2 separate regions of the Homo sapiens genome follow, and region 2 is linked to region 1. The links come from fine-mapping of genetic effects on gene expression. Tissue or cell type: thyroid. Region 1 holds a variant in brackets; the other region holds the start of a gene. All regions are shown on one strand. Distances are between the middles of the regions.

Region 1 (10,598 bases):
AGCGGGACCTTGGGGGGCGCCGTGGGAGTGCCCTGGCGCCGCGCCGCGCCGGGGCCATCCGGACCCCTAGGCCTATTCCCGCCGCCTGCTCGGGTGGTGGTGGGGGGAGGGAAAAGACAAACTGTTCTTTGTTTGCCTTTGGAAAGCCGGCCTGCCTTTGTTCCGGGCGGGTTCGTTGGTTTCCAGGCGTTGAAGGCTGGGAGAGGAGGGGGTAGGGATCCCGGCCCAGCGGTCCCAGACGTTTTCGGAACTACAGACCCTGGGCTCAGCGCGGGGTCGCCGAGGGGACGCGGGCCACCAGCCCTATCCTCCGGAGCTCAGGCGCAGTCCAGGCTTCCCAGGCCCCGGGGCTGCCCTCCCGGAGCCTGACCTCCCCTGGGGGTGGGGGTGCTGCCCTGGGGCCCCCTTCCTGGGTTTCCTGGTCCTTCTGTCCACGTATCTCACTCCCCCATTGAACCGGCAAAGAGCACAAAGCAGAAAAGACATCCTTGCCGCCCCAGGCTCCCCCATCTAGCAGAAAACTCTGAAACAGTCCTCACCCCTCCCAAAGTTGAGAGAAACGTGGATGTTCCATAAACAAAACCCGCCCTCCAGCAGCATGTTTAAGTGGAGGCGACCTCGCGTGGGTGTGCGTGTGTGTATGTGTGCGTGTCTGCGTGCGCCGGGGACGCGCGATCATCTCTCAGGCTGTTTGTGGATAATTTTTTTCTCTAGATTTTGTTTGTTTTTAATAAGGATCAGAGGTCTGGGCTGTGGGGAAGGGGCAAGGGTCATCTCGGATGGCCAGGCCGGGAGGTACCAGGGGGACAGGTCTCCGGGCCTGGCCTGCCGAGCGAGGCGGGATCCGGAGCCGCCCCATCTGGCCCTACTCCCGGCAGTGGCTGGTGGGAGTCAGTGGGGACCGGCTCCGTGGGCTGCTCCTGGGGTATGGCCCCAGAGAGGAGCCAAGCCAAAGAATACGATTTCTCTCCCCTGCACAGGGCAGCTGTCATTTCCCCGGCCCCTGTCCTGGCCATAAGGGCCAAGAGAGAAGGCAAGCAGAGTGGCTCGGGTCTCTGGGGCTTTCTACACTGGAAAGGGAGGTTTTTGTTTTTTTGTACAAGGCAGACTTCAACTTTCAGCGAGCAGGCTGACCAGATGGGAATGTAGGGAGGGTGTGCGGGGAAAGGGGACCCCCCTGCTTCAAACTACCTCCCTGCCATCATTGCCTACCAGCCTGGGCCCCCACTGCGGCCCTGTGCTGGCTGAAGGGAGGGAGGGGCTGGGGCTGATGTTTCTTCTTTCCTACTCCCTCCTTCTTTCTAGATGTGAGAAAGGAACCCCGCCCTGTAGGGGAAGCTTGTCTGGTGTCCAGAAGACTTAGGGTCCATGGGCCGGGTGTGGTGGCTCAAGCCTGTAATCCCAGCACTTTGGGAGGCCGAGGAGGGCAGATCACGAGGTCAGGATATCGAGACCATCCTGGCTAACACGGTGAAACCCCGTCTCTACTAAAAAATACGAAAACTTAGCCGGGTTGCGGGGTGGCGGGCACCTATAGTCCCAGCTACTCGGGAGGCTGAGGCAGGAGAATCGCTTGAACCTGGGAGGCGGAGGTTGCAGTGAGCCGAGATCACGCCATTGCACTCCAACCTCGGCAACAAGAGTGAAACTCCAACCTCGGCAACAAGAGTGAAACTCCATCTCAAAAAAAAGAAAGACTTAGGGTCCACAGTGGCAGTCTGGGTGTTGTATTGCCATCTCTCCTTGAAGGAGAAGATGAACACTTGGTGGGAGGGCGCCTGGGAGCTGTTGCTGCAGTGTAGAGAAGCCCCATCTTGGCCCAGCGGGCAGCAGCCTGTGCTGAGAATGGGGACTCCAGGACCAGAGAGGCCTGGCAGTGGATCCTGGCTCTGCCAAAACCACTGCTTGTGCATCTGGACGACGGGGACAGCGCAGTGCCCCTGTCACAGATGGTGATGGCTCCTGGCGGTGGTGCACAGAAGCTCGTGGCATGGCATCTGGTGCACAGTAGGTGCTAGAACATGGAATCTGTCATTGGAGCTGGTGTGACCCAAGATGGCCACCTTGGGTCTCTGACACTCCGGGGCTGGCTGTGTCCCAGGACAGGTTCATCTTTGGTCAAGCCTCCAGGAAAAGAGCACTGGACTGGGGTCAGGAGAAGCAGAGGCCATGGGTTCTGTCACCAACCAACTGTGTAATCCGACACAAGTCCCTGAGCTGCTTTGAGCCTCAGTCTTCCCATCTTGCAAATGGGGATAATAATCACAACCACCACTGACTGTGAACTTACTCAGTGCCAGGCACTCCACCGAGGCCTGTACATTGCCTTATCTAATTCGACCCTCAAAGCAACCAAGTGAGGTAAAGACTAGATCCCAGTTTCACAGATGAAGGGACAGAGCCTCAGAGAAGTGAAGCCACATGCTGGGGACACACAGCTGGAAGGTGGTGCAGTCTCCATCACACACCCCTGAGAGCGAGTGTCCAGCTGCTGCTCCTGTCTCTGTTGTTCCCCCGCTCTTCCTGCTCACCTCCTGTACTTTTTGGTGGCTCAGGCCACAGCCCTCCCTTTGTATTTGAACCCTTGGATCCAGCCATTGTGGAATCTTCTGAGTCTGGTGGAGATCCAGCCCCCTCAGTGGGAGACATCCTCAGGGGTAGATGGGGGCTTCAGGAAAGCCAGGTGGGCCCCACATGGTCCCCACAGTCAACCCGGCAGCCCCCAGCCGATCTGCCATCCACTGAGTCTCCCCCTGCCGTTTACACCGAAGGGTTGGGGTTCCTAACCCACCCAGGTGGACGCGTGGCCTCCAGATGGTGCAGTTAATCCCGCTGGAAGCCGTACATCAGCGTGATTGTCCCAGCTTCCCTTCTCCTCCCCTCCTCCGCGCTGTCACCTCTGAGGAGCTAGTGGGAGAAGCGCCCCTCCAGCCCCCCGCTCCCGTCCCAGGCTTTGTTCCTGCTCAGTAGCCGGAACAGGAAGTGGCCCAGTCACGGTCTCCATAGCCCATGTTTGAATCTCAGCCCTGTCACTGCCCAGCACGGTGGCTTTGGCCAAGCATTTCATCTCCTGTTATCCTGTTTCCTCATCCATGAAATAGGGTGGGTCACAGCGCCTCCCTGATCCCAAAGATGGGGGCTGCTGTGTATGAGCGCTCCACCGTGGACCTGGCTCCCAGGGATCCTGGGATATGTAACAAGTGCTTACTTTGGGCTAGGTGTTGTAAATGCTTTAGCTCAGCAAATCCTCAAACAAGCACGTTAATGACCCTGTTTTATAGGTGGAGAAGCCGCCACTCCGAGAAGGGAAGTAAGTTGCCCAAGGCCACACAGCCAATTAGCAGAAGAACTGGGATTAAACCAGGCAGGCCTGTGCAGCTCTAAAGACCTCGCTGTAACCTTAGGTTCCTGGCCCTCCCTACTGAGCTCCTCTGAGGCTACCAAACCAGTGTCTGCAGTGACAGCATCTTTAGCCTTCCCTGGGGCTGCTGGGCTAATAGGGCCTTAATAAAGCCAGCAGAGGCATCTGCAGCTTTGCAGGGCAGGAGCTGAGGGGCCTGGTGCAGAAGATGTGTCCTGATGAAAATATCAGGTGGGGAGGGGGAGGGGACCATGGGGTGAGCCGCCTGCTCATGTCTCCAGCTTCCTGACCTCTGTGGCTGAGTCACTGGAAGCCTCCAGGTGCAGGGGACAATCAATTCCATCACTCATTCCATCCATGTTGGCTTACTTCCTTTCATCCATCCATCCATCCATCCATCCATCCATCCATCCTCCCAATCACTCATCCTCCCTCCCGTGCTGCCATGCATCCACCCATCCATGAATCCACTCAGCTACCCATTCCTTCCCTCCTTTCCTCCTTTCATTCTCTCCTTCCTTCTGCCCATCTGTCCATCCAGTGTTTACTGAGCACCTATCTTGAGCCAAGCCTTATGTGACGTGCCCAGGTTCCTCCCTCTGAGGGACTCACATTCTCAAAAGGATGCAAAACAACTAACCCCAAGTGCCCAGGGCCCTAGGAGAGGAGAGGGCATCTCAGGGGCTCTGACACTGGGCTCTGCACACCTTCCTCAGCCAAGGCCGCCAGGTGACCTTGGGCCGATCACACTCCCTGGGGACCTCTCTTCTACATATTCAAAAAAGGGTGTGCTTGTCCATTCGGCTGTTATGACAAAATACCTTAGACTGGGTTATTTATAAACAAATTTATTGTTCACAGTTCTGGAGGCTGGGAAATCCAAGATGAATGTGCCTGCAGATTCGGTGTCTGATGAGGGCC[G/A]TTTCCTCATAGATGCCTTATAGCCTTGTCCTCACGTGGTGGAAGGGGTGAGCAGGCTCCCCAGGCCTCTTGCCTAAGAGCATGAATTCCATTCATGAGGATAGAGCCCTCATGACCTAATCACCTCCCAGAAGCCTCACCTCTTTTTTTTTTTTTTTTTTTTGAGACGGAGTCTCACTCTGTTGCCCAGGCTGGAGTGCAGTGGCGCGATCTCAGCTCACTGCAAGCTCCACCTCCCGGGTTCACACCATTCTCCTGCCTCAGCCTCCCCAGTAGCTGGGACTACAGGCGCCCCCCCACCATGCCTGGCTAATTTTTTGTATTTTTAGTAGAGATGGGGTTTCACCGTGTTAGCCAGGATGGTCTTGATCTCCTGACCTCGTGATCCACCCACTTCGGCCTCCCAAAGTGCTGGGATTACAGGCGTGAGCCATTGCCCCAGGCCAGAATCCTCACCTTTTAATACACATTGCAGATAATGGTGTTTTTTTGTTTTGGTTTGGTTTGGTTTGGTTTTTGTTTGTTTGTTTTGAGACAGGGTCTCCCTCTGTCACCCAGGCTGCAGTGCAGTGACCTCATCTTGACTCACTACAGTCTCGGCCTCCCAGGTTCAAGCAATCCTCCCTCCTCAGCTTCCCGAGTAGCTGAGATTACAGGTATGTGCCACCACACCTGGCTAATTTTTGCATTTTTTGTAGAGACGGGGTTTCACCATGTTGGCCAGGCTGGTCTGGAACTCCTGACCTCAGGTGATCCACCCGCCTCAGCCTCCCAAGGTGCTGGGATTACAGGCATGAGCCACCAAGCTTGACGCAGATTATGTCTTGACATACGAATTTTGGGGGGAGGGGGGTCAGGTCATGGTAAATGTGGTGCATTGTGATGTCTCCTATTCTGTATTTCTACAATCCCAAACAGGTGAGTAAGAACCCAACTAACTACTCCCCCGAGCACCCATTCCCACCCCGGCCTCTGGGATCTGCCTCCAACACCTGCAGGTTCCCCAGATTGAGGTCCAGGTCCGCTCCAATTGACCCAGACAAGCTGCGGTGGGACCTGGCAGAGGTGGGGGCCGGGGCAGAGCACTGGACTCAGAAGCAAGAGGCCAGGGGCGGGGTCTGGCTCTGTCCTGTGATGTGTGACCCTGAGGAAATGGCATTCCAGAGCTCAGATGAAATACCTTAGAGACTCGGGAAATGTCAGCTGTTGGGGGCATTACTGTTATAATTATTGCTGTCATATTGTTGCTACAAAAGAAGCTGGTTAGAGCCACTGGCTTTGGGAGGCATCGTTCATTCGGTGGTTACCACTCGTTCACCCACTCACTCAATAAAAATTTATTACTGTGGCTGGGCATGGTGGCTCACACCTGTAATCTCAGCACCTTGGGAGGCCGAGGCGGGCGGATCACCTGAGGTCAGGAGTTCGAGACCAGCCTGGCCAACATGGTGAAACCCTGTTTCTACTAAAAATACAAAAATTAGCCAGGCATGGTGGCGGGCACCTGTAATCCCAGCTATTTGGGAGGCTGAGGCAGGAGAATCGCTTGAACCCTGGAAGCCGAGGTTGCAGTGAGCTGAGATTGTGCCATTGCACTCCAGCCTGAGCAACCAGAGCAAAACTCTGTCTCAAAAAAAAAAAAAAAAATGGCCAGGTAAGGTGGCTCACGCCTGTAATCCCAGCACTTTGGGAGGCCGAGGCGGGTGGATCATGAGGTCAGCAGATCGAAACCATCCCGGCTAAGACGGTGAAACCCCATCTCTACTAAAAATACAAAAACTTAGCCAGGCATGGTGGCGGGTGCCTGTAGTCCCAGCTATTTGGGAGGCTGAGGCAGGAGAATGGCGTGAACCCAGGAGGCGGAGCTTGCAGTGAGCCGAGATCGCACCACTGCACTGCAGCCTGGGCGATAGAGCAACACTCCAACTCAAAAAAAAAAAAAATTTATTACCGTGATCTGTGCCACGTGTTGGGCCCTGAGCCAAGTGCTGGGGAAGATACTAGGTAAGACAGGATCCTGCCCTCCAGAGAGGGCGTTGAACAGGTAGGTGTCACCTCGATTGCCAGGTCCCCATTTAATAGAGGCTGTGTTGAGGATTCTGAGACTACATCTCGGCTTAGAGGGAAAGAGTGCTGTGATCAATTAGTAATGTCTGCCACATTCACAGGGAGAGGAGTCTACACTAAGGCATTTCCTGGCCTTAACACTAAAGAATAGGCAGGATTGGCCGGGCGCAGTGGCTCACGCCTGTAATCCCAGCGCTTTGGGAGGCTGAGGCAGGTGGATCACGAGGTCAGGAGATCGAGACCTTCCTGGCTAACACAGTGAAACCCCGTGTCTACTAAAAATACAAAAAAATTAGCCAGGCGTGGTTGCAGGTGCCCGTAGTCCCAGCTGCTGGGGAGGCTGAGGCAGGAGAATGGTGTGAACCCGGGAGGCGGAGCTTGCAGTGAGCCAAGATCGCACCACTGCACTCCAGCCTGGGAGACAGAGCAAGACTCCGTCTCAAAAAAAAAAGAATAGGCAGGATCTCAGACAGGAGACCCTCGTGACTGTGTGACTGTGGTTGCCTGACACACGACCAGAGACAGCAAGTCATTGACCTACTGCTTGCCTCGTTTTACCTGTTTGCGAAGCAGAGATGCCAACATGGGACTCACTGCATTTTTAGAAGGAGCTAGAGCTGGACAGCCCAGCCTTCCTGTTTTAACCCAGCCTCCTCTGGGCTGGAGTGAGGATCAAGTGTGAGATGCCCCTAAATGGAAACACATCGCGCTCAGCAGATGCCTGGTGGACGGCCGACCAGGAGCTGGAGCTGCAGCAAGAGCACAAGAGAGCTGGGCTTCCAGCTGCTCTGCCATTGGCCCTGCTTGGGCCTCAGCTTCTCCATATGCTCAGTGCGTGCTTGGAGGATGGAAGTGTTTTGGGGCCTCTGGAATCCGCTGTCTTGTGATGCCTGCAATGCTGAGACCTGGGGTCGGGGGAGCAGAATGAAAGCGGAGCCCAGGAGGGCAGATGGTGGGAAGGAGCACTCCAGTGCCCCATGTGGTGGGAGGCTGGGTGGGCAGAGGGGAGAGGGAGGACATGGGGAAGGGCAAGGAGAGGCCACCACTGCTGGATCTTCCCGAGGGCTGTCTAACTCCCTCCCGAGGGCTGTCTAGCTCCATCAGGGGGCGCTTCCCCATGCACCCCCATCCCAGGTGTTATCTCGAGCAAGGAAGGGCAGAGGGAAGAGAGGGTGGGCAATGTGGGGGCCCCAGGGAGTGTTGGAGGGGCTGAGGCCCTGATAGGTGGGCGCCTGAGTTCTGAAGAGGCCCTGGCAGTGATGACCCCTGGCTCCAAGACTGGAACCCAGGAGCAGCAGGCTGGGGCAGAAGACGCAGGCCAAGCCCCAGTACTCAGGAGCATTGGGGAAACCAGGGCAGCTCCCGGAGAGGCCAAGGTGACCCTCAGACCCTAAAAACAGACTGGCCACGTCTCCCAGGTGGATGCAGCAGTTTCTCCATGAGCATGACTTGGGGATTTAGGGCACTGAGACTCTGCTACCCACCCCCCTTAAAAATCCCTTGTGACTCCCAGTTGTCCTGAAGGGGAACCCCAAACTCCTCAGAGGCAGCACATGCTGGTGGGTGAGAATTGGGAGCCTGAGTCCAAGTTCCAGCCTGGCCACTATCGGCTGTGTGACCACCAGTAACTCGCCTAACCTCTCTGGGCCTCATGGGCTCGTTGGAGGATGTGGTGAGCGAGTGACTGAGATGAGCTTAGCACAGTGCCGGCCACACTGCCATTGTTCAGTGCCGGGTGGCTGTGCTTACCACCACTGCTGGCTGTAACTGGCAGAGCAGGGCATAGAAGGTCTTGGCCACTTGAACCCTAGTTGGCCTATCCTTTCTCATCGGCTCCAGCTCCACCCGCTGATGCCGCCCCAACACCAAGCTGCTCTCTGTTCCCTCAACACTCCTTGGTCTTTCATGCCACTGGGCCTTTGCTTCTGCTGTGCCCCCGTCAGGAATGCCCTTTCCCCTCCAGGCTGCTTCCAGACTCTGCCGGTTGTCGAGTGCCCTGGAAACCCGCTCACCCTGCAGGAGTTACTCAGTGTCCTGTGTGCATCCAGACCTTGGTGTGTGGTATCGAGCCTGTCTCCTGTCTGAGTCTGTGACTTCTCAGGCGCACATGTCGTGGCCTATTCATTTTCTTATCCTCGTTGCCCAGCGCCGCGCCTGTCACACGGTGGGTGCTCCGTAGAGTGGGCTGGAGGATAGAAGCAATCAATCCCCAATACCGTGGACGTGCTTGGTGGCAGGAGATGCTTTGCTTCGATGAAATGCTCCGCCTCCAGGTTAGTGCTTTGCATGAGGGATAGGGACATGGAGGCGCCACGAAGGATCAGCAAGGCCCCTAATGACTCCTTTCTCTCCTCACCCCTCCTCTGCCTCTTATTCCTGCCCTGAGCAGGCATTGAGCTCCTGGGGTTGGGCAAGGAAGGGAGAGCAAGTGGCAGGGGGTGGGTGGGCAGCAGGTTCCCAGTCCTGCAGGCGCTGCTGGGATCAGGATGCCACCCTCGCCACCCTGGGAGTTGTCTGCAGCACAGGGGCAGCTGGAGGTGGAGGTCGTGTGCTCCATGGACAGGTGGGGGTCATGTGCTCCATAGGGTGCCCGGCTGGGCCCTTGTCCCCAGTGCCCTCCCTGGCTGCCAGACCTCTCACTGTGAGGCAGCCAGGTCTCTCCCTGTCCTGGCAGAGGGAAGGCTGTTGCTCCCATCTGGCTCTGCTCCTGGCCATCTGCCCTCTGACCCCACCTGCCCCAGGATGAGTCCCTGCAGAATGCTCGAGTTAAACAGAGTCTGAGGGAGTAGTGAGTCCAGCCTTCCCATTTGGCAGATGAGAAAACTGAGGCCCAGGGAGGCAAAGAGCCTTGTCTGAGGTCACACCAGGAACGCAGAGTTCCATCTATGGCTTGATGTTCTTCCAGGACAGGAGAAGACCTTGGTTTTGACCCTGAGGAAACAGCAAAACTTGGACCTTGAAGACAGGAGATTGCCATGACTAATTTGGGGGCAGGCGGTGTGACTTTGAGTATGTTACCTAACCTTGCTGAGCCACGTGGTACTGGTGAGGATTCGGTGAGATGACAACTGGTCACAGCATGGCAGGCCTCCTGGCATGTCCCTGACTCTCCTTCAACAGGAGCTTTCGATATATTAGGGAGCAGGTAAGCCTCACCTTGAACAAATCCAACTGATGACACTTGTTTTTATGCAGACATAGCGGTTCCCCTGACCTTTGTGATAGTGTGGGATGACCATGTGTGATGGAGAAGGGCCCACGGCAGGTTTCTCTGGGTATAGTTAGGCGGGACCAGATGTACATCCTGCTCTGCCCCCAGAAGCTGCAACTCGAGAGGGGCTTGGTGGCTCTGGGCCTCATCTTGCCCATCTGCAAAATGGGAGCAATGGCACTTCCCTCTCCAGGCTGTTGTGCCCCTTGGTGAGATCACTTCGGGATGTAGAGCCTTGTGAGCGCAGGCCTCCCAGAAGTCCATCTTCCTCACCAACAAATGACCCGGTTCCGGAGAAAGATCTCGCCTTTGGTTGCAAGGTAAGCCAGGTAGACCTGGCCTCAGGGCCTGGGTTTCCTGGGGAGGGATGGGGTCTCAGAGCTCCTGGGCTGAGTGAGTCGAGTCCCCCCAGGAACAGGAAGCTCTGCCCATCTGCAGCCCTGTCCACAGCTGGTCATCCCTTCCTCCCCATGCTGCTGGAAGCTTGGGACCCACCGGGCCCTCCCCGCTGCTGCTGGGTGCCACGTGGCTGCCGTTTGCCGAGGAGCGGGTGGGGCAGAGGGGTGTACATTTTCCAGGCGATGTTTCCCTGGCAGCTCTGAAAATTAACTGGCCGTTAATGTGGCATACTATTTATTTTAATTAGCAGGAAATTGACCAATTTCTTAATAAGAGGCTTTGTGGAAGCCAAACCTGTATTTGGGGTTGGCGGTGTGTGTGGTGGGGGAGGCGGTGATCAGACAAGAATGACACCCACAGCCCAAGAGGGGACCTTCAGGCACCACAGATGAGGTGGACAGAGTGACGGGACAGAGCAGCAGGGCCTGGAGAAACATTAGGGGGCAGCAGGAGGAGAGGGCTCTGGGCCAGGGGACCTGCAGAGGGCCGGGGGACATGGCCACAGGCCTCTGTGGGATCTGACTTCACTGATCTCTGCTTTTGACTTTGGCCTGGTGGGGTCAAATCCCTGATCTCTGTGTCAGGACTGTGCCTCTTGCCTCTAGCAACACCCCTTTCCCATTGGAGGAATTAACAGAG
Region 2 (10,598 bases), 82 kb after region 1:
GGCACTGGTGGGAGTGTCGTGTCATATGCTAATGCATTATAATTACAGTATAATGAGCAGTGAGGATGACCAGAGGTCACTTTCTTTTTTCTTTCTTTAAGACGGAGTCTCACTCTGCTGCCCAGGCTGGAGTACAGTGGCGCAATCTCAGCTCACTACAACCTCTGCCTCCTGGGTTCAAGCAATTCTCCTGCCTCAGCCTCCTGAGTAGCTGGGATTACAGGCATGCACCACCATGCCCGGCTAATTTTTGTATTTTTAGTACAGATGGGGTTTTACCATGTTGGTCAGGCTGTTCTCGAACTCCTGATCTCATGATCTGCCTGCCTCAGCCTCCCAAAGTGCTGGGATTACAGGCATGAGCCACTGCGCCTGGCTGACCAGAGGTCATTTTCATGGCTGTCTTGGTTTTGGTGGGTTTGGGGCCAGCTTCTTTACTGCAACCTGTTTTATCAGCCAAGTCTTTGTGACTTGCATCTTGTGCGGACCTCCTATCTCATCTTGTGACTATGAACGCCTAACCTTCTGGGAAAGCAGTCCTGTAGGTCTCAGTCTTATTTCACCCAGTCCTTATTCAAAATGGAGTCACTCTGGTTCAAATGCCTCTGATACCCGCACATTGAAAATGAGAACACATTGCTGAGAGAAACTGTTCATAGATTAGAAGTTTCCATATCATTAAGATGTCAATTATCCCCAAAATGATCTATAGAGTCAGCATAATTCCAATTAAAATCCTAGCAGGCTGACAAAGATGCAAAAGGCTATTCAGTAAAAAAGAATGATCTTGATACTGGAGTAACTGGACGTTCATATGCAATAAAAAATGAAAAAGAGTCAATCCAGACCTTGCACCATATAAAAAAAAACTCAAAATGGATCATGAACACAAATGTAAAATTTAGAACTATAAAACTTCTAGAAGAAAAAAAATGGAGGCAGTCTTTGTGACCTTGGGTTAGGTAAAGATTTCTTAGATACGACAGCAAAAGCACACTCTATAAAATAAAAGACGGGTAAGTTAGACTTAATCAAAATTAAAAATGTCTGCTCTTCAAAAGACATTGTTAAGAGAATGAAAAAACATGTCATATATAAGGAGAGAACACCAGCAATGTACATATTTGATGAAGGATTTGCATCTGGAGTATACAAAGAACTCTCAAAACTCATTAAGGAAACATAGAACCCCATAAATAATTAGCAGAAGATGTGAACAGGCACTTCAGCGAAGACCAGCAAGTTGGCACAGGTACAGATGCTCAGTGTCATTCGTCATGAGGAAAATGCAAATTAAAACCACAATGAGACGCCATCAGTCACCTCTTAGAAGGACTGAAATTAAAAAGACTGATCATGTCAAGTACTGGTGACCGTGTGGAGAAACTACAAGTCTCCTATACTGCTGATAGGAATGGAAAATGGTGCAGGCACTTTGGAAAACAGCTTGGCAACTTCTTGTAAAGTTAAGCATGCACCGACCACACAATCAAGCAGTTCCACTCCGATTTAGCCAAGAGAAAAGAAATAAATGTCCGTGCAAAGCTTGCATGTGAATGTTCACTGTACACTTTATTTGCAACAGCCCCAAGCTGGAAGCCACCGGAATGCCCGTCAACATCTGGATGGATGAAGACACTGTGGTCTATCTGTATGACTGTAAAGGGATAAACTGTTGATACCACAGCAACATGGATAAATCTCAAACTAACTACGCTTAGTGGAAGAAGCCAGACGAGAAAGGCTAGATACTGCGTGATTCCACTTACAGAAACTCTAGAAAACATGGATGAACCCGTGGTGACAGGAAACACAGAAGGATCAGTGGCTGCTTGGGGTCGGGTTGCAGTGGGAGGGGCAAGGCAGGCTGCACAGGGCCTGGGATCTGGGGGCGAAGGGTCTGTTCACTGCCTTGACGGCCTCACGGGTGCGTGTATATAGACGATGACTCATCAATAACGCAGACTCAGCAAACAGGGAAGCCCTGGCAGGAGGAGGTGGTGGCATCGGGGCAGGTCCAGCTATCACAGGCCAGCCTGGTGAAACACGGCAGTGGGCTACTTCTCCAGACAAAACTGCTCCCTCTTGGGTGTCTAGAGGCGATTCCTGCGTAGCTCTGCCTGGACTGGGAAACATATTCCTAACCCCGTGCAGGGGCTGCAGTCCCTCTACCCGAAACCCACGCCAACACCCACTTCACATTTTGCATTTGAATCTCAGGAGGTTCACGGACCCTGTAACCCAGCGGCACCCGCAGCCCCTGGGATGGAAAAGCATCATAAAAGCAGACAGTGGCGCGTGTTGGGGAGGACGGGGAGAACCTGGGAGAAGAGGCAGCTCCTTACAAAGCTCAACGTTAAATTACCACGTGACCCCGGCACTTCCTCTTATGGGTGTACACCCGAGAGAAACAAAAATGCATTTCCACACACAAGCTTGTACACGAATGTTCACAGCGGCACTGTGTGTAATAGCCCTAAACGGAAGCAATTCAAATGTTCTATCAATGGATGAACGGATAAACAACATGGTCTATCCACACACTAGACTGTATGATTCATCAGTAACAAATGGAGCGTCAGCACGTGGTCCAATGTGAGCGAACCGTGAAAACCTTACGTTCAGTGAAAGACGCCAGACGCCAGAGACCACTCATCGCTGAGCCCATCTCCCTGCAACACTGCCGGTAGGGGAGTCTAGAGACAGAACACAGACAGTGGCTGCCGATGGCTGGGAGGGGATGGCTATGGGGCACGTTTCCTTCCAGGGTGATAAAGGCATTCATTCCAAGATAGACTGTGATGATGGCTGCACGCTCTGTAGATGACATCTCAATCAAGCTGCTTCATGAGAAAGGCCCAGCCACTGACCACGGGGTGAACGTCCTGCCGTCCACAGTCCCTGGCCGAGAAGAAAGTATGACTGACAGGTAAGACTACCTAAAGTCCCAGGCACACCCTGGGGCGGGGAGGAGGCTGGGGACAAGGACAGAGTGTGCAAAGACACGCCGGGCTCTGGGAGGTCAGCAGAGAGTCTGGACCCCAGATTTGAGGCAGCCAGGAACTGCCTGCCAGTCCCAGCTCATATGGCCTGAGCTTGGCCAACCGTGGCGGGTCCCACTCGCAGATGGCCAGCTGCCTCCGTGCCCTGGGGCAGGGATGTCCTGTTCCTGCTCTTTAGAGTGACAGGGAGGCCCTCCCTAACAGACTTCTCAGTCATTTAGGTTGGGGGCAAAAGGGGCTGGCCGCAGCTTCGTGTAGGTGGAGCAGGGCTTGGTGGGGGGGCAGGGCTAGGTGGGCTTGCCCGGGGTCGAGGTGGTGGTCACTGTCTAGTCCCCACCCAGGACAGACACTCGGGGTCCCAGGGAGGGCTCTGCCTCCTGCCTGGCAGGAAAGCGTCCTGCCCACCCGGTGCCATGGCCTGGGGAGTGCTTGGCTCTCAGGCCAGCTGCCCGCAGGAGAAGCTGGGACTGGGGCGGGGAACCAGCCTGTTCGCTTCCGAGTGGGGCTGACAAACCCCCAGCCTCTTCACAAAGCCTCCAAAAACGGAATGTCGTGGGGAACTGGACGCAGATCCACAGGGCCATAGAGAGCATTTCCGGCTTAGTCAAGGGAGTAACTTTTTAACAGTTTAAATGCGCGTGATGGGATGTGCAGGCTTGGGAGGCAGTGGACCAGATAAAACCATTGGCCAGAAGATACAGAAGGGCTCTAGGCCGCCCAGGCCCTTCAGTTAGAACATCCCCCACCCCTCCCCCCCGGCTCCCAGGGCAACGTCAGAGACCATCTGGATGGAGGATGGGGCTGGTCCTGGCTTCTCACAGTTTGGGAGGTGGGGCAGCTGGGCACCAGGTCAGCAAGCCACAGGTCCACCCACAGCCAAGGCCCAGGCTCCCCGCCTCCCCCCGTAACCACCTAGACACAGAGCACAGACCCTGCCTGGCCATCGGCCCTCCAATCCCTGCTGGAAGATGTGCCCAGGCGGAGCAGGACCCCCGCATTACTGCTGCGCGTCCAGCACCTGCAGCGGGGCCCAGCACGGTGGGCATTCCACATGGGCGAGGGCCAGACGAGTGAGCCACACCCCACCCTTTACTCAACCATCCCCCATGAGGACGACATCAGAGTCGTCCCCCAAGCCCAGGTCTGACACTCTCTTTCCCCAACTTTGGCCTGGAGCCCGAGGCCTACCCCTCTGCTCTCCCTGCACGCTGGGTGCCCTGGAGCCGGTGAGCATGAGCACGTGAGATCCTGAGGCCAGAAACATCTCCCCAACCCAGCCAGACAAACTCTAATTCACCTGTGAGCCCCAGCTCCAGGCCACCTCCTCCAGGCAGCCTTCCTTGACTGCAGTGCACCCTGGGGTATCTGGGAGACGCCTCTGCACAGTCTTTGAATCGGGCTGTACAAGTATCTGTCCTAGCGGCAGCAGAGCCGCGTCATAAACAGTAAAACAAGCCCGGCGCGGTGGCTCACACCTGTAATCCCAGCACTTTGGGAGGCCAAGGCAGATGGATCACCTGAGCTCAGGAGTTCGAGACCAGCCTGGCCAACATGGCAAAACCCCGTCTCTACTAAAAATACAAAAAAAGCCAGGCATGGTGTCGGGTGCCTGTAATCCCAGCTACTCGGGAGGCTGAGGCAGGAGAATCACTTGAGCCCGGGAGGCAGAGGTTGCAGTGAGCCAAGATCGCACCACTGCACTCCAGCCTGGGCAACAGAATGAGACTCCATCTGACAACAAAACAAAACAAAACAATAAAACAGCAACAGCAGCTCAGGGCTCCTGCAGTTCAAGGTTTTAGCGGCCTGGGCATGCGGTTTCTCTGCCTACTTGGACCTGAGCAGCCTCCCTCTGCCCAATGTCACTGCACACTCCCTGCATGCCCCAGCCCTGACTCGGGTGAGTGGACCATGCAGACGGCGAGAGGCCATGCAGGCCAAGCCAGGATAGAGCGAACCCTGGCGGGGCCAGGTGGTCCCCGTGTGTTTGCAGCCTGGATGTGATGCCCACATCTCTGGGCCAGGCACAGCTCTCCACTGTCGGCGGCTGGTGGGATTAGATGTGACCAAGGCCGCTCCCGGGCCGGCTCTACTCTGTGGGGGGCAGGTGCGGCTCTGGGGGTCCTGTTGGGCCTGAGCACGTCCCGATAACCTGGCTGCTGCCCACTGCCCAAGCGCCAGAGCACTCGGCCACCAATGAGAGCTGTGCTTCCCTGGTCCTGGGTTAAAAATATCCCCGTAAGTGACAAGACTTTGAGAATTTCGTCTCTCCAGTCACTCACATGGGGGGCGAGGACAGCTCTTGGCTCCGCGTCTCGCCCGGCTGCATCTGATGGCTCCCTGGGCTGAAGCTGCATCTCATGAAACAGACGAGAAGTCATTCACAGCCCGACAGCACAGGCACAGAAATTTGCTGTTTTATACCAAGTTGGGCGGCCTGTCATCTAGAAGCTTCTGTCCTGACCTCCTCAGCGAAGAGGAAGTCATGGAACCAGCTGCTGAGCCTCCTGACCTCGGCCTGGCCTCTCCTGGCAGCTGTGGGCCCCAGGATGAAAGCGGGCACCACGTCACTCACGAGACAGAAGCTGTCGTTCTCAGAGCCTCCCAGGTGAGTGGCCGGGCGCCTACCTGAAGCTGGACGAGCCCACAGTGGCTGAGGCCAGTGGGGACCCAAGGGGCCGGTCCGGCCTTCCCGGACCACCAAGGAAGGTGGGCGCTGCTTCCCTCGCAGTGCAGATGGTCTCGGCCGTCACTCTGCTGTCCCTCTCCTGGCTGTGAGCTCAGCTTCAGTGTCCCCACCTGTGAAATGGGGAGACCCCCAATCCTTCTGGGCGGGTGCCTTGCCTCTGCCCTCGCATGAGTCTCCCCTTTCTGAGCTGGGATTCCATCTCTCCTGGGAATCAGGTGCTGCCTGGCTGAGAACCCGGTAGCCAGGCACAATCACGCCGTCACCACCCCAGCCCTCAACCAGACCCTGCCTGCTCGCCGCGCTCGGCCGCCATCTTCCTGTGGACGCCACTTACCCTCCGGCGTCGCCATCGGCTGCAAATTGCCTTGTTTTTCATCTTTGGCAGGGCTCAAAATTTGATCATGAAAGGGAATTTTCTTTTTTCTTTCTTAATTAGTACTTGGTAATATCACCAAGCTGTGAGTTTATGGCTTTGTAGATCTTGTGTGTTTGACACTAATTACTCACAAAGGCTTTTAAAGCTGCATTTCAACTCTGCAACCACCATGCCAGTAATTAAGCTAGAGGAAGCGGCAACAGATTTCATTTTTCACAGACACCCTTCCCACCTGTGCTCCCGCTCCGTGTGGCCGCAGCCCCCGTGGCCCTGTGGAAACCCAGCAGCTCCTTGCGGCTCCGGCCCTGGAGGCCTGAGGTGGCCTTGCCTCCAGGAGCCCGGGCTCAGCCGTCACAGCCGGGCAGGTACAATCAGGACGAGCTCCCTGTGAGACTGGGGACCCAGGCCCAGTCCCAACCCAGGTGAAGGTCCCTTCCTTCTGCCCCAGAGACGACTAACGAGCAGCTCCCCTGGCTGCCCCAGAGCCCCCCACAGGGGCCGTGGCTTCTGACCCTTCAGACTCAGCTGTTCCCAGGGGCCCTGCTTCTGCCCCGCCCGCCCCCACGGCTGCACTCAAGCCTGCGCTGTGCACACCGAGGCCAGCTGAGTACCGGATAGGACCTGGGCTGAGGCTGCCCAGCTCACAGGGAAGCAGAAGCCGAGAGACCAAGAAGAAAACATCCCCCAACTGGCTGACAGTCGCCCTCCTCGACCCCAGATGCCACTAAGAACAACGCAAAGTTCTGGCGCGCAGGGAGGGAAGTCCGTGTTGACTTGGGGGCGGGTCTGCAGCAGGAAGGCTGGGCACACCCTCCACTGGCTGCTCACTAACTCCCCTGCTGGCAGAACCTTCCGCTGCACAAGCAGAGGAGAAAGGAAGGCGTGGAAGAGAGCAGGTGGCCCACGGGCTGGGAGGGGCAGGGAGAGGAAAGGCGGCAAGGTTCCCAGCAAAAGAGAAGACGCCACTCCGAGAACCCCGGGAGGTATAAGGGAACCCTGTTTAGTAACGCTGCATGTGCAACAGATAACACGTAGTTCACGTGCACAGATGTGTGCAAACATCTATGATGTAACCGAGCGGGGCTGTGCAGAGCAACTGTTACAGTCTGAACTGTGTCCCCCAAATTTAGATACTAACCTAATCCCCATGTGACTGTATTTGGAAATAGGACCTTTAAGGAGGGAAGTCAAGTCTGATGAAGGTCATAAGGGTGGGTCCTGATCCAGCAGGGGCACCAGAGCTCTCCAAGTGCACAGGAGAAAGGCCACACAGGAATACAAGGGGCGGCCGTCCACAAGCCGGGAGGAGAGTCCTCCCCAGGGGCCAACTCCGGTGACCCTTGATCTCAGATTTCAGCCTCCAGAACTGTGTGAGACACACATCTGCGGTCTCAGCCCCCGCTGTGGGGCTCTGTGACGGCAGCCCCAGCCAGACCAGCAGAGTGGTGGACACGGCCAGGTCTTATTTTGGTGAACTAGCCCCTTGGCTCCACAGATCTCTGTAACGTGCTTATGTGGGAGGATGGTAGGGGCACGGCAGCCCCACCTAGGAAGCAAGGTCTCCACAACCATGGGTCATGTTAAACCAGCTCCTTCTCTGGAGGCTAAGGGCCTCACGTGGTCAACTGCAGCCCAAGGTCCTGAGCCCCCTGTCTGGTCCAACACCAGGTGCTTTGTCTCTCTTCTCCTTCGCACAGGTGGTCACCCTGCTGGACGCTGCCCCTTTCCCCACTGTCCTCACCCACCGAGACCAGGTCCTACCACAATAAAAGGACTCTGGTTAGGGCTTTATGGAGTCACCAGCCTTTCAGAGACACATGCTACAATACTTGAATGATTGCAGCTAAATTGATTACGATACCTTGGATTTGCTTCAGAATAATCCAGGAAGGGGGAAGAGGGTGGGATGGGCTCACAGGGACTTCTCGATGCTGTTTTCCATATTTTTATATATATGCTTAAAACTTTCCATGGCAAAAAGTGAAAATAAACACAAACAGAAACCAAACCAAAAGCTAAAAGATGACAACTCATCCTAACCAGGCCAGGGTGACCTCCTCTCAAAACCCAGGCTCTGGAAGGACATCTCGCTCTTACCCCCAGAAGGTGACATCCTTGGCCCCAGAGCCCCTGCCAGGGCTGCCCGGTCTTTACCCCTCTGCCCAAGGCCACACGCACAGGATGTCAACAGTATTTGTAGAATTAGCGAGGCAGCATGGGAAGGTGCGGTTCCATCTCCAGGCCCCCCGCCCTGGTCCTCCTCCCACTGGGTCTTAACTCCCCGAGGGGCCACAACGCTTCAATGCGTGAGGTGCCGTGTGCCTCTCCACCCAGGAAAGTGTGCACAAGCACACTCCGTGCTGCCTATAATTCTGGGAACGACAGGGGTCTATGAAGCCCACCCAAGTTCCTGGAATACAGACCCCTGCCCTGAGCTCGCAGCGGAACCCCCATGCTGCTGCTCCTCCTCACATGTGGATCTGGGACGTCATGCTGGGCAACTGAGACCAGGTCTGCCTTCATGTTGTAAACAACTAGAAAAATGAACAAAATACACACAGTAACTGTTCACAGACACTGGGCTGTCTAAAGACAGAGAAACAAATGAAGTGAACCTCTGAACACCCCTTGCTCTACCCAGTGGTCTCTTCCAGGCTTGGCGCCGTGGGGTACAGCTCAAGCTCAGCATGATGGTCCTGCTGAGAGGAAGGGAGGATCTGTGGAGGGCGGAGCTGTGCACAGAAGGCTTCTGGCAACCTGGAGAAAGGTCTCGCTGAGCTGCTGAGTAATACACTCTACGCACACAGCATGCAACTCCACAAGGCTGAACCAAGCACATCGGGGAGCTGTCAGGGAACAACTCCAGAGGTCACGCAGGACCGGGGACAGGCACATGCCGACCAGCCAGAGCAAGTGTTCTTGCTGAGCACCCAGGTCATCTGCTAGGAACCTCAGAAGGGTCATGTCTTAGTAGCAGAGTTAAACTAGCCCTGGAATAAAAGCAAATCCATACAAGCCCCAAGAGAGTGTGAAAACAGTTCTTGAAAGGATCAAGCTGACCCCAAAATAACTTAACTGCTTGCCAGAAAAAGCCCAATACTCTTCAAAGAAAGAACAAGGAAATTTGCACCCTTTCATACACTTAACATAAAATTAACAATTACCATCATACAATCAAAAATTACTAAGCATGCAAAAAAAGGAAAATGTGTTCTATAGCTAGGAGAAAACTCAGCCAATAGAAATAAGTCCAGAAATGATGAAATCAGCAGACAAGGATTTTAAAACAGCAATTATAAATATGCTGCAGAATTTACAGGAAAACCTGAACACAGTGAAGGGGATGGCTGCTAGCTCCCAGGATGGCCCTGAGCGACCCTGCTTCCTGGCAGTCACACCCTGGTGCTGTCTCCTCCCACATCATACCAAGGTTGGCCTACATGATCAATTGAAAACGGCAGAGCCAGGCATGGTGGTGTGCACCTGTAGTCCCAGCTACTCAGGAGGCTGAGACGGGAGGATCACGAGCCCAGGAGTTCAAAGTTGCAGTGAGCTATAACAGTGCTGCTGCACTCCAGCCTGGGTGACAGAGCAAGACTCTGTCTCAAAAAAAAAAAAAAAAAAAAAAAAAAAAGGCAGATGTGATAGTAGATCAACTCCAAGATTATGTTATAAAATACACTGTAGCTTCCATCTTGGGCTGGCTCTGTCTGTCTCTTCCTAACTCATTCAACACTCACTCTGCGTTGAACGCTGCCATGTTGTGAGGACACTCAAGCAGACCTATGGAGAGGTCCATATGGAGAGAAAGTGAAGTCTCCTGCCAAGGGCCACCTAAATGAATTTGGGCACATCATCTGGCCCCTGTCAAGCCTTCAGCTTTGCAACCCAGGACAAAAGCCCCTAACTGCACCCTCTGACGAGAATCTGGGCCAAAACCATCCAGCTAAACTGCTCTGGGTTCCTGAATTTCAAAAACTTCACGAGACAACAAATGCCTGCTGTTTTAGGTGCTAACTTCTGGAGAAAGTTGTTACGTAGCAACAGACTACAAAAATGAAGGAGAAACCAAAGATATGAAAAAAATAACCAAATAGACCTTTTAGGCATGAAAAACAAATGAAATTTTAAAACTCCACTGAATGAAATCAAGGGCAGGTTAGATACTCCAGGATAAAAGGTCAGTGAACTTAAAGACAGGAACAGAAACTATCCAAATTAAAGCACAGAAAAAAGATTGAGAACCAAAAAACAAAAAGTACAAAGCTTCAGTAATTAGGATAATATTAGTGACTTAAAATATGTAAAACTGGAGTACTGGAAAAAGGGGAGGGGAACAGAAAAAATACTTAAAGAAACAATGGCCAAAATTTCCCAAATCTGACTAACTATAAATCCATAAATCCAAGGAGCTCAATGAACCATAAGCAGGATAAATACAAAGAAAATCAGCTGGGGGTGGGGTGTATATTATATACAAAGTACAAAGATAAGACTACTAGCAGACTTCTTGTCAGAACCCATGCAAGCC

Evidence for each region. PIP is the estimated chance that this variant, and not a neighbour inherited with it, causes the effect.
Region 2: LINC01659 starts here. The variant in region 1 is the best candidate, but not a certain one, in a credible set for the expression of LINC01659 in thyroid (GTEx, PIP 0.74).

Annotation. Positions count from the first base shown.
Region 1 is chr22:23,511,300-23,521,897 of GRCh38, reverse strand. LINC02557 (long intergenic non-protein coding RNA 2557) reads left to right here and starts at 8,564. Exons shown (of 3, transcript XR_938072.2): 1 at 8,564-8,622; 2 at 9,255-9,880. RefSeq lists a silencer at 1-116. The variant G/A (reference allele first, on the strand shown) is at 4,283.
Region 2 is chr22:23,429,763-23,440,360 of GRCh38, reverse strand. It overlaps LINC01659 (long intergenic non-protein coding RNA 1659), which reads right to left and starts at 6,797. Exons shown (of 3, transcript NR_110538.1): 1 at 6,300-6,797; 2 at 5,631-5,801; 3 at 5,290-5,537. RefSeq lists enhancers at 4,018-4,709, 8,276-9,121.